Regions from separate parts of the Homo sapiens genome. Here region 2 is linked to region 1. Evidence: fine-mapped expression QTL. Tissue or cell type: whole blood. Region 1 holds a variant in brackets; the other region holds the start of a gene. All regions are shown on one strand. Distances are between the middles of the regions.

Evidence for each region. PIP is the estimated chance that this variant, and not a neighbour inherited with it, causes the effect.
Region 2: it holds the start of B4GALT5, and the variant in region 1 is fine-mapped to the expression of B4GALT5 in whole blood (TOPMed, PIP above 0.99).

Annotation. Positions count from the first base shown.
Region 1 is chr20:49,767,011-49,769,917 of GRCh38, forward strand. All of the region lies in intron 2 of LOC105372652 (a long non-coding RNA gene), which reads right to left. Among named protein-coding and RNA genes, the nearest start is that of SLC9A8, 44 kb to the right of the region's middle. RefSeq lists enhancers at 1,514-2,363, 2,364-2,907. The variant G/A (reference allele first, on the strand shown) is at 1,390.
Region 2 is chr20:49,712,829-49,715,735 of GRCh38, forward strand. It overlaps B4GALT5 (beta-1,4-galactosyltransferase 5), which reads right to left and starts at 1,050. Exons shown (of 9, transcript NM_004776.4): 1 at 748-1,050. The coding sequence starts at 862. RefSeq lists silencers at 523-642, 933-1,262.

The DNA.
Region 1 (2,907 bases):
ACTTGAACTTCCCAGGATGCTCAGATGCCCAAAGCACCTAACATGAGGGGAAGATTTATGGCCTAGACTAGACTATACTGGACACCAATTTCTTTGGGAAACCTCCCCTCCCTCGCTTCCACTCCCTGCAGTTCAGGTGAGGCTGTTTATACCCCTTGGTTCCACCAAGAAGCATGTGACCAGGCCTGGACAATCAAAGCATTGCCTTCTTCAAGTGACAATGATTGGTTCAGAGATGAACCACAACTTGAGTTCGTCCAATCAGAGTGAATGCTGCAACTTCAGCAGCATTTCCAGGAAGTGACCTCCTTTCCCACCACACTCATACCTGGCAGGATGCAGGCCTGGAGCTATTGGTTGCCAGCTTGCTATCAAGTAGATACTAAGACTGGAGCCAACTCACTGAAGAGCAAAGCCAAGAGATGGCGAGAGACTATGTCTGGTAACCTCATTTGAGTTCCTGAATCCAGCCAGGTCTGAAGCCAGTACTTTTCAGTTACTTACTTCAGTCCTTTTCAGTTACTTAAGCCAATAAATTGCTTTTTGCGTAAAAATCAGTTTCAAATGGGGCTTCTGTCATTTACAAATAAAAGAATCCTAGGCTGGGCACAGTGGCTCATGCCTGTTATCCCAGCACTTTGAGAGGCCAAGGTGGGAGGATTGTTTGAGTTCAGGAGTTTGAGACCAGCAACATAGCAGGACCCCATCTCTATCTGAAAAAGAAAAAAAAGGGCCGGGCGTGGTGGCTCATGCCTGTAATCCCAGCACTTTGGGAGGCCGAGGTGGGTGGATCACGAGGTCACGAGATCGAGACCAGCCTGATCAACATGGTGAAACCCCGTCTCTACTAAAAATAGAAAAATTAGCTGGGCGTGGTGGCACATGCCTGTAATCCCAGCCACTCGGAAGGCTGAGGCAGGAGAATTGCTTGAACCTGGGAAGCGGAGGTTGCAGTGAGCCGAGATCGCGCCACTGCACTCCAGCCTGGTGACGGAGCGAGACTCCATCTCAAAAAAAAAAAAAAAAAAGAAAAAGAAAAAAGAAGTATACATACAAATAAAAGAATCCCAAGTTTCTCAGTGTTTGGAGGAACATGTTTGAAAGACAAATTGAAAACATGTTTGAAAGACAAATTCCCAGGTGACCGAGACACCTGTGCTGGGACCTGAACCTCCACCTTTGGAACAAGCTCCTCCGGGACCCCTAATGTATGTAGTCCTGCCTTTATAGTCTGAGACTCTCTGACCCAGACTTTGGGGGAAGGACGGTCTCTTAATTCTGCATGGGAAACAAAAGACACCCAGTCCTTTCCATCACAAAGCCCCAGCTACCTTCTTGGCAAAGAGTAGGGAAATGCCTTTCATTCTTTCCCAATGGCCCTGGAATTGA[G/A]AAAATGAAAGACAGTTGATTTCCCAATCAGGTTATTCCACCACGTTGAACTTTCGGTAACTGTCCTTGCCCCATCGTGTTGCGAAAGCATTCAGGTTGAACAGTGTTCAGGAAGAATACTCAAGCAAAAACTGGTTTGCAGCCAAATACAGAGACTGCAAACCCCAGTGGCTTCAGGGGCCAGGCAGGGAAAGTAAACATGTGAAACAATAGGGAGTAGTCCTGCCTGTGGGGAACAGGGGAGTTCTCATGCCCCAGCCTAATAAATGAAAAAATTATTTATACACCACAGTGGAACCGGAGATGCACCTAAAGCCATTGGGATGTGGTTTCTCTTTTTCATCTCACTGCTCTGTCTCTGATGTGGCTTCATTCTCAGAGGATTGTGGGCTCACAAGCCAACATCCTGACAGTTTAGAAACCACAGGAGAAATGTTTCTCTTTCTCAATCGTTTCAACATAAATCCTGGATGAAACTGTTATTGGCCTTGTTTGAGTTCAAATGGTCATCCCTGAACCATCCCTGTACCTAAAAGAGGTATGGTGGTGTCATTGGTCAGACCTGAGTCTGACCCATCCTAGAATGGGGTTCAGGCCCACTTTAACCATATAGACTGAGACTGGGGAATGGGAAAGGTTTCATGCCTTTGTTTGGGCTCCCTCAGAAGCAGACTCTGAGATGAGGATTTGAGGTGCAAGTGGATTATTTGGGAGATGATCCCAGAAAGCACCATTAGGGGATTGAGGGAATGAGACAGAGAAGAGAAGCCTGCGGAAACAGGAAGTATTATCCAGCAAGTTACTACTGTGGACAACTGGAGCACAATCCCATCAGGGAACTCTGGCAGCCAGTGTAGAGCATTGTTTTAGTCTATTTTGTGCTGTTATGATAGAATACCACAGACTGGGCAATTTAAAACAATAGAAGTTTATTTGGCCCATGGTTATGGAGGCTGGGGAGTCCAAGGGCATAGTGCTGTCATCTGGCAAGGGCCTTCATGCTGCATCATTCATGGTGGAAGGTGAAAACGTAAGAGAAGGTGAGGGTGAACAAGAGATTGAACTCGCAGCCGCAAGCCCTTTCACAACTGGCATTAATCCATTCTCATGAGGGCTCCATTAGGCTCCACTCCCCAGCACATTTGAATTGCGGATTAAGTTTCCAATACATGCTTTTGGGGGGACACATTCAAACCATAGCAAACATAGACCTCAATGTTATCCCATCTTAGTGCTGAGGGAGCTGGGGTATTCATCTACCAACTTCTGTCAGTCATTGTCTGACAGTTGCTAGCAGGAGAGTTTTTGCCCAGAACTTCCAGCATGGAAGAGCATGGTCCCTGCTGGTCTGAGAAAGTCCTCAGACAAAGAGACGAAGCTTGGGCCAGCGTGCATTGAAGGTTAGGACAATGGCCAGGGCACCTATAGCCTTTGCTTCATTGTCTGAAGGAAAATTGGGGTGCTATGATCAGAAGAAGGCACTGATGTTGCACAGGTCAAACAAACATGTTCATTCAA
Region 2 (2,907 bases), 54 kb before region 1:
ACGCGAGGTGGGGGGGGGGGAGATGGGGAAGAGGCATGGGACGCTCAGGGGATTAGCAGGAGATTGAATGGGGGTGGACCTCTGTAAGGGGAAGGGGGGTGCCACCGGCAGGCAGAGAGATCAGGCCACTGAAGAGGTGAACGTGAGTTAGGGAGGAGGACCTGGAGGTGGATGTAATAGGGGAAGTAGAGGAAGAAAGGGGAGGGAGGGGGCTCACGGGAGCAGGAAACGATGGAGTCATGGGGAGTGGGGGAGGATGGATGGGAGCTAGAAGGTGGGGCGGCCTGGGACCCGGGCACATGGGCTCGGCGAAGAGCGGGCGCGCCGCGGGGGACTGGGGTGCGGGGAATGCCGGGAATGGGGGTTCGAGGAGACCCCGGGGAAGGGAAGGGGAAGCGGGAGTTCTCGAGCAGAGGAGCGGGAAGTGGGAGTTCCAGCGAGGCAAGAGCGGGAAGGGGGTTCCGGAGCAAGGGGCGGGCGTGAAGGTACAGTCGGGTTCGCGAGGGTGGCGTTAGGAGGGGCGGGGTGGGCCGGAGGCTGGCGCGGGAGAGGGATCCCGGGCGCCTGTTGGGGTGCGGAGGGCAGGAATGTCCTGGCGTCCCCGAGAGCCGGGCCAGGACTCCGGAGTCTTCGGAGGACCAGGCTCAGGGCCGCCTCCCGGCCGGGGCCCCTTAGGGAGGGGCGGGGATTCCCCGGGTCCCTCAAGGCCAGAGCGGCAGCCGCCGCGGTCCCAAGCCCCCTTCCTACCTATGCCGGGCGCCACATAGACGAAGTACAGCAGCGAGGACGAGAGAGAAAAGAAGAAGAGCGCGGCGAGCAGCGAGCGGCGCGGCAGCCGCAGCAGCCCCCGGCGGGCGCGCATGCTGCAGCCAGGCGGCCGCTAGAGAGCCAGGCCGGGCCTGCTCCCGCAGCTCCCCGTCCGCCGCCTCCTGGGCCGCCGCCGCCACCGCCTGGGCCTCGGCCACCGCCTCCCGGGCCTCGCGGGCCGCCACTCGCCGCCGCCGCCGCCTCGCCGCTCCCAGCCGCCGGCCGTCGCGGGCCGGGCCACATGAAGCGGGCGGGGGCCAGAGCGGCCCCGAGCGGGCGCAGCGGCGGGGGCGGAGGCGGGGCGCACGCGCGGGAGGCGGGGCCAGTGCCGCCGGGCACCGTCGCAAAAGACCCGCGCGCTTGCGCTCGCCGCCGACCCTCGCTCGGCGCCCACAGCAGCCCGCATGGAGTAATCGCCAAATGGCGACAGACCCTCTCCCAGTGCGGCCACCGCCCAGGCTTTCGGGGAATGTCTCCCAAGTGCTCCGCGCTAGCTCGTCCCCCATCTCGGGGGCCAAGGGGCCATCTACAAAGTCTGACTCATCTCGTTGCCCACTGCAGCAGAAGAGTGGGGACTGCAAGGCTTGGGGGTTCGGCCTGGTATACACCCTCATTCATTCATTCATTCATTCATTCAATTCACCATTTATTTATTGAATGCCAGACACAGTTGTTGGCGCTGGGCATGCTACAGAGAAAAAAAACGATAAAAATCTCTGTCTACTTGAAACTTACATTATGTGAGAGATAAAAGAAACAAATCAGCTAGTAATATCAGGTACTGGTAACACATATGAATACGATAAAACAGGAGGATGTATTGCAGGCAGGCTGGAGTGGTCAAGGAAGGCCTCACTGAGCAGTGACACGAACTGAGATATAAAAGGGTGAGAAAGCGCCAGCTTTTTTGAATAAGCTGGGGAAAAAGCAGTCATACCAGGGGGAACAGCAGGTGTAAAGGCCCTGAGGTAGGAAAAGGGCTGATCTGCCCCCGAGTTGAATCCAAGGCCAACATGGATAAAATCCAGTGAAGTAGGGGGGGAAATAGGGATGAGCTTGGAGCTGTAGTCAGGGATCCTACTGTATCAGAAATAGCATAATGATAACAATTGTCAATGTCTCTAGACTTCTGCTGAGAAACATGGACTTCACTCATGCCATGAAATTCCCCCACCAGTCTTGAGATGTGTGCTGTTATTATTACTATCATACAAATGAGGAAACTGAGGTTTCTAGATGGAAAGGCAATTCACCCAAGCCTTGCAGTAAGGGCTTAAATCAAAACTGGCCTGTCTCCCATGTCAGGCCCTTGACCTCTAGGTTGTAACTGTCTCAGCAGTCTGTATGACCTCTAATTCTTATCCTGCAGGCAAATCGGTATCCTATCCCCATCACCTGGGTATGGGACCATATCCAAAAAAATGCTTTCAGATCAGCATCAGCTCAAAGGACCTCAGAAGGCAATGAACAGTCCTAGAAATTTATGGCAAGAAGCAGTAGCCTCAAGGAGCTGGACTGAGGAGGCCAGTGTCCCTGTGTAGACATATCTGAAACTAGGGTACTGTCTTGGAATGCCAGAAGCAGTGGGGAGGGGAGAGGACTTTGCAGGGATTCTGTGAGAATCAACAATAATTCTGATTTATATTCCTAAAGTGATTTCTACTTTTTACAGTGTTTCTTTGATCCTTTAAGTGGGGAGTCTAGAGCCACACTGCCCAGGTTCTCTGACTCCCAGCTTTTCCATTGTTAGCTGTGTGACCTCACGCAAGTTAAACTCTCTGTGCCTCGGTAAAATGGAGGAGGTTATTAGCAACCTCATCAGGTTGTTGCGAGGATTTAAGTAATACATGCAAAGTGCACATAGTAAGAGTGCTTAGCTGTCACCTAATTCAATACCCCTGGAGAATGGTATGGTGGAAGAGAAGAGGCTTAAACGATCAAAAAGGAAAGCAGAGAATTTTGACTCAGATAGATGTGAGTTCAAATCTCGGCTTGGCATCTCCTGGCTGTGTGACTCTGGGAAAGTCACTTACCTCTCTGAGCTTCTCTATTCATCACCTGTGAATCGGACCCAGTGCTGCCCACCCCACGGGGATGTGA